Homo sapiens: one gene and its partner. The protein of the gene in region 2 interacts with the protein of the main gene of each other region in a pairwise test. Each region holds a gene or a part of one and is shown on either strand. Other genes may lie near its edges.

The links. The genes of interacting proteins can lie anywhere in the genome.
Region 1: the proteins of ARL13B (region 2) and SLC13A3 interact in binary tests that used the Homo sapiens proteins (3 or more experiments, as listed by UniProt).

What each region holds. Positions count from the first base shown.
Region 1 is NC_000020.11:46,616,960-46,620,459, reverse strand, and holds part of SLC13A3 (Na(+)/dicarboxylate cotransporter 3), read left to right. Parts: intron 1-3,500. UniProt on the Homo sapiens protein: High-affinity sodium-dicarboxylate cotransporter that accepts a range of substrates with 4-6 carbon atoms, such as the citric acid cycle intermediates succinate and alpha-ketoglutarate (2-oxoglutarate), as well as other compounds including N-acetyl-L-aspartate.
Region 2 is NC_000003.12:94,053,155-94,056,178, reverse strand, and holds the end of ARL13B (ADP-ribosylation factor-like protein 13B), read right to left. Parts: intron 2,993-3,024; coding exon 2,916-2,992; 3' UTR 501-2,915; downstream 1-500. UniProt on the Homo sapiens protein: Cilium-specific protein required to control the microtubule-based, ciliary axoneme structure. May act by maintaining the association between IFT subcomplexes A and B. Binds GTP but is not able to hydrolyze fit; the GTPase activity remains unclear.

The DNA.
Region 1 (3,500 bases), on a different chromosome or scaffold from region 2:
TTGCTCTGATAGGGGCTGTTTTCGAACTATCCTTTTTAGTGCCTCAAACTAGATTCTGTTCAGACATGTGATAATAAGTTAGTATGAGTTTATTTTGGTGCAAAAATTTGAAACCCATGCATAGTTTTTAAATAATACATACTTTTCATGAACTTTTTGAAGATCCCTTGTCTTAACCTCTCTGTGCCTCAATTTTCTCATTTGCTAAATGTAAATGAAAATAATACTAACCTTCCTTTCATAAGGTTGTTTAATGAACAAATAGACATAACATACTTAGAACAGTCCCAGGCACATAGTAACATTCAATAAATGTTCTTATTTTTTCCATCACTGTGTGACAGAGATATTCTGAATTTTGCAATAGCAAGGATGAAAGCACACACATTAAGTTCTATTAAAATGTCAGGTATTATTTATTGTTAGGAGGATGGAGAAGGTGAGTGTTTTAGTCAGGAGTCTGAGTTGCAAATGACAGAAACTTGAATCACAGGGACATTAAGTCACCTATCCAAGGTCACGAAAGTCATGGTGTAATCAAGCTATAGTTCAAATCCAGGAAGTCTTGCAACAAGCCCATGTTCTTAACCGCTGTGCTGTTCTGCTCTTCTGTGAACCGAGTGCTGTGAGAGCATAGATATTGGAACTGACCAGGACTTTAGGGTGGGGGTCACAGGATAAAAATGGCCTTTACAAGATGAGTCATAATTCACTAGATGAAGAAGCAGAAGAATGTTCCTGGCAAAAGGAAAAGCATGTGCAAAGGCCCAGAGAATGACAAGCAGCGTAGACTGCTGAGAGAACTGTGTCCAAGATAACAGAGAAAGTGGGGAATGTGGGAAGCCTGTACTGGGACACACTGATAAGCTTTGAATGCCATGACTGTGAGTCTGGGGGCCATGGGGAGCCAGAGGAGGTGTTTGAGCAGGGGAGTGACATAATCTGAAGTGCATTTTAGAAGTATTCCTTTGACTGCTTATGTGGAGGATTCATGAAGACAAGTGCAAAAGTTGAGAAATAGTCTCAGTGAAAGCTGATGAAGTTTGACCTTAGTCAAGGGCAGTGCAGATGGAGAGGAGAGACCTAAAGACTCAGGCTCTAATGACAGAGCTTGGACTCTATTGTATCAGATCATGCCTGGGACCTCTCTCAACTGGGTTTGGCTCAGATAAACCCCAAATCCAGCTGGAGGACATGAGCCTTTTTTTGACTCAAATACAAAAGAGGCTTCCAGCATAGGCAAGAAGGCAGTCCCTCTCCTTCTCTGTGCCAAACACCTCTCAAATCCTAGCTCGGAAAGATGTCACCCTGTCTGAGAAGGCTTCTGTCTTAGATTGGGTCTTCAGAAGGACCCTGAGACAACAATTTGACTGCAAGGAATTTGGGGGCAGTGGAGAAGGGAAACAGTGAAGAGCATGGAAGAAATACAAGTGTGCCAATGAAGAGGTTACTACCAGCAGCAGTGACTCAGCCTTACTGGGGACTTCTGGGAAATGGTATTCGACATGCCTCAGTTATCCCACTGAAAGGCAACTGAAGTTCGTGGCTAGGAGCTACTCCTGGAGTGTTATTTCTTGGCAGTCTTGGCCAAGTGTGCTTCTGAAACCGGAGAAATCTGAAGACGTCACTGGTGTGAACAGGAATGATGGGCACTGAAGCGAGAGACGGAGGACTGTCTTAGTCCATTTGGGCTACTATAACAAAATACCTTAGACTGGGTGATATTTAAACAATAGAAATATATTGCTTACAGTTCTGGGGGCTGTGAAGTTCAAGATCAAGGCACTGGCAGATTCAGTGCCTGGTGGGGCCTTGCTCTTTGCTTCAAAGACAGTGCCTTATTGCTGTGTCCTCACATGGCAGAAGGAAGGCTCTTAGGCCCTTTTTATGAGGAAACTAATCCTATTAGTGAGGGCAGAGCCCTCACGACCTAATCACCTCCCAAAGTCCCTGCCTCTTATTACCACTACAATGGGGATGAGGATTCCATGTATGAATCTGGGGGGACAGAAACACTGAGACCATAGCAAGGAGGTGCTGAGGTGTCTGCCCTTCTCAGACCCCACTGGCTGACACAGCTGCCTTTCACCTTTGCTCCATAGCTCACTGTCTTAAACTCTGTTTTAGCCCTTGTCTCTCTGGGAGGTGAATGATTTGTCTTCATGTCTGTCTCCTTGAGCAGTGGAAGCATATGAACCAAGGATGGGCTAGGCACCAAACCTTGAATGCCTAGTAGAGGGGTGGACTACAGTCTAGGAATCTAGGACCAGGGATGGGCTGGGCACCAAACCTTGAATGCCAAGTAGCGGTGTGGACTACAGTCTAGGGGTCTAGGTGTCTCATAATAGACCTAAGATGAAAGTGAAACATCTTATAGTCATATCATTTTCAAAACGCAAAGATGAGGATTGTCTGAAGGGGTCCAAGAGTTAATTTATGGTATGTCTGGGCTTCTGTGGGAATTTGAGACTATAATCTCCACCGAGGACTCATATTTACAAATTGGGATACCTGTTGGTCTGGTGAGTGGTACACAGAACAGGATACATGGGGCATTCCTTCTTGGGTCAGCAGGAAGATTTGATAGAAAGTAATTGTATATTTTTAAAAGCACGAATTCATTGTGGAGCAGGATACCAAGCATGGGTGGAAGAAAGTCAGTTTTGCGCAGAATGTGATGCAGATTTCCTGGCCCAGGGGGTGATACATGGATGTTCTTCTGCCTGGAGGCCCACAGTGGTGTGCTGCAGCCAGCTTATGCTGGCTTGGGAAATGTGCTTGTCAAATTTTTAGGAATTCTAATAGCCAGTTATTAAATACAGACCTTAATACACACACACACACACACACGCACACACACACACACACACAAGTTTTTCAGAGAGCCAATTGTTCAACATTTACCAACACACATCTGTTGTTTGAGGGATATTTGGCAGAAAGAGCCTGGGAAGGTGATTTGGGTTTGAGAAGCACTGTAGTTTTTTTTTGTTTGGTTTTTAGAGACCAGGTTTCACTGTGTTGCCCAGGCTGGACTTGAACTCCTGGCCTCAAGCAATCATCTTCCCTAAGCCTCCCAAGTACCTGGGACTATAGGCACCTGACTAAGAACTGTTTATTGGTTGGCATGGCCAGATTTACTTGTTAAAAATTTAGGCTATGTCTTAGTCATTTTCCTTGTACCAGCTTCCAGCCCAGGGCATAAAATGTGGTCAGGAATAAAGTTTGCTAAATGGATGGATGAATGAATGATAGCTTGGATCAAGCTTTTTCTCTAAGTTGTAGAAACATGTTTTCATCATTCAACAGATATTTTGAGTGCCTACAATGTGCCAGGAACTGTTCTTGGCACTGGGAACACAATCCCTGCTCTCCTAGAGCTTGCATTCTAATAGAGGAGAAAACATATAAAGCTATAAAATCTGCTTTCAGGTGGTAACCGGTTACATAAAAGAACATGAAGCAGGATAATGGGCTGGAGACAGAGTTTCATGCTGCTT
Region 2 (3,024 bases):
AAAAAACAGGTATCTATTATTCTGTTTCTGTAAAGATAAAGGATTATTGCTATTTTGATAACCTATGCCATGCTTAATTGAAAATTTTAAAATATTTGAATTTGTTCTTTGGATCAGTTGGAATATACTTCCTGATAAATTAATAAACCATTATTAGCAGAATCTCAGTTGCAAAGCATATTCCACTTAGCAAAAAAATTTACTAAGTAAAGCCAAGGATGATAAAGTTTATAAGCTACAGCTTTATATGTATAAACAATTTAGCTTGTGAATAGCTTTTGCTACCTAGAAGCATTTGATTTCTTTAGTTGTATTCTGCAGGTGAACTGCTCCACGATGTTCACAGGTTTTACATATTAAGGGAATTGTAGTCTTAATCTGGCATTTATAAAAGCACTTAATTTTAAACTTGCAGAAAACATGGTACTTAAATAATTTATACAATATTATAAATTTGCCTCCCTCACTACAAAAGTAAGCCAAACTACATTTCTTTCTAGTGTTGTTTCTATGCATAGTTTTATATTTGAAGTCAGTTACATACAATATCATGTATACTACGTAATATGCATTTTACACATAAAGGCACACAAGAGCCTCTTTTAAATACATAAAAACATATCTGTTGACCAACAGCTTTAACGCAAGACAGACATCAAATCCTCTAACATCATATGGTGAAATGCTATTTGTAGCTGCATTTAAAATCACAAATTCTTTCCCACATACATAAAAACTTGCAGAGAGAAAAAAGTTTTGTGTGTAAAGTATCAAAAAAATGCATTATTTTAATCTACTGATTTAAACTGTTTTTCAATAATCATATTTTAAAATCTTTACCTATTTTATTACCCAAAGGAAATCATTTAAATCTACCAATTGAAAAGAGAAACAGAATATTGATATAAATTATTTTTATTGTGTGAAAATGTCAAAATTCAGAATTAAGAATAAAAGTATAACATATAACAAAATAGGCATTTAATTGTTAAAATACACCTGGATTTACAAAACATTTTTTAAAATGTTTTTAAAATGCTTAAGGAATAAAAATTAATTTTTGAGAGAGCTATATAAAATGTGAATTCTATATTATATTTAATTTCAAAATCATTTATTTTTATTAAATGAAGCCAGTAGCTACACTATAGTAAACAGATAGAAAACACAAATTTTAAAAACACGTATACTCCCAAACGAGATAAATATTAAAAAGATAGCAAAAGTATGAGTTTAGTTTTAAAATTAAGTAAATGTTACAAAAAGCTATGCAATTTTCCCTCTAAAATCCTTTTCAAAGTTTACATTGTCTTTTCGTATTGCTTTTCATCACATTTCAGCCACCTCTCAAATTTAGGTTGTTACGAATTTTAGATCTGAAATCAAATGCTTTTACCTCACTCAGTGTGGTTGCTAAGTCCCATGTACAAACTCCAAGAATATATACAGTGCTGACTAGAGTACAGGTGACCTGATTATTAAAGTTCAGTGAGTTAAAAAATGTGAATAAAATCTGATGTTCTGAAGTACAATTTTTAAAGTAAATAATTATATTAAACGACATAAAATGTACTTAATGTTATCAGATACTAGCACATGTCTGTTGTGTCAGTACAAGTTACCAAAAGCACCAATCTTAACAAGGTGGTATAAAAATCATTCTGTTTATACTATTTTCATTGGATATAAAGGTTTGTTTTCAATTAAATGTAACATTATGAATCTATTATTAAAAATATACATCTAGAAGTTAGTCTAAATGCCAAATACAGAATCTTATGGATGCCATTCTTAAGTGCAAGAGAAGTGCTATCATTTTAAATTAAGAAATTATTTTGGAATTATTTATTTATAAAAGTAATTTTGGGCCAACATTTTTATTCTCATTACTTTAGTACACAAGCTGTTTCCCAGTTGTAAAACAGAAGTCTCTGGACCTGCAGTAGGTTTTCCAGTTTTTCTGCCTTTAATTTCATAGTTTAATTTCAAGGCATGAAAGAATTAGAATCACCTAAAAGAGTCACTGCAGCTTCTGATGGAACAAGGGAGTATAGGGAGCACCTTGATCTCTGAAAGTGTCTAACCTTTAAAATAGGACTTTACTGAGACTTTTAATAGTATCTCACAGAATGTATTTTGATTAATTTAAAAAACATTTAGGTACAAAAGGTATTTCCAGTCTCATTGAGTACTGTTTTCAAATCATGTAATTGTTAGAATAAAGATCTGAGAATCTACTACTTCGAAAATATATTATTTTTAAATTAGGTCAAATTACGATGTACACTTAAAGAACAACGCTATTACAAAACATACCTCAAGCCATATAAATATATCCTGTTTGTATAGTTCATGTCTGAAAGTAAATCAACTCTATTTTCCAGATATAATTTAAACAAATCATCTATAAAAAAGGTGTATAATCAATATCACAGTAATTAAAATTTTTAAAGATTTAAAAAAATATAAAAATAGTTTTAAAATTTTGGTTATAAATTCCTAGAAGTCCCCCTTCTATGTGCATATATCTTACAAAAAATATTTAATATCTAGAAATATAGGCTATTGAACAAATAGTAAAGAAAGTGCTGAGTCCATTGGCTCTTTTTGTAAAGTTTTCCTTCAGAAGTATGCTCATGAGTGGGGATGTATAAACCAGAGTCAACAGTAAATCTTGCTAATTTGGTCCAAATGCTGATTTCATGTACTGGTCATTGTGCTTCTTTTATTTTTTTAACCATGAAAAACACAAATAAGTAATTATCAAGTCAGGTCCTTGAGTATTAATCTTCTCACTAAAATTATTATGGTTATCTTGCCCCAGTCATCAATTTACAAGATGTTTCTTCTTCTGAGAAAGAAGAATGTCCCAGTTCACCTTGCTGATATTAAGAGAACTCCTCCATACGTCTTGTTTATGAGATCACATCATGAGCATCACTGTTAGGTCGCTGTGGCACAGCCAGGGGAGGCAGTGGCTTCCTATAGAAATCTAAGAAAAGAAAGAAAACCAAATGCACAAAA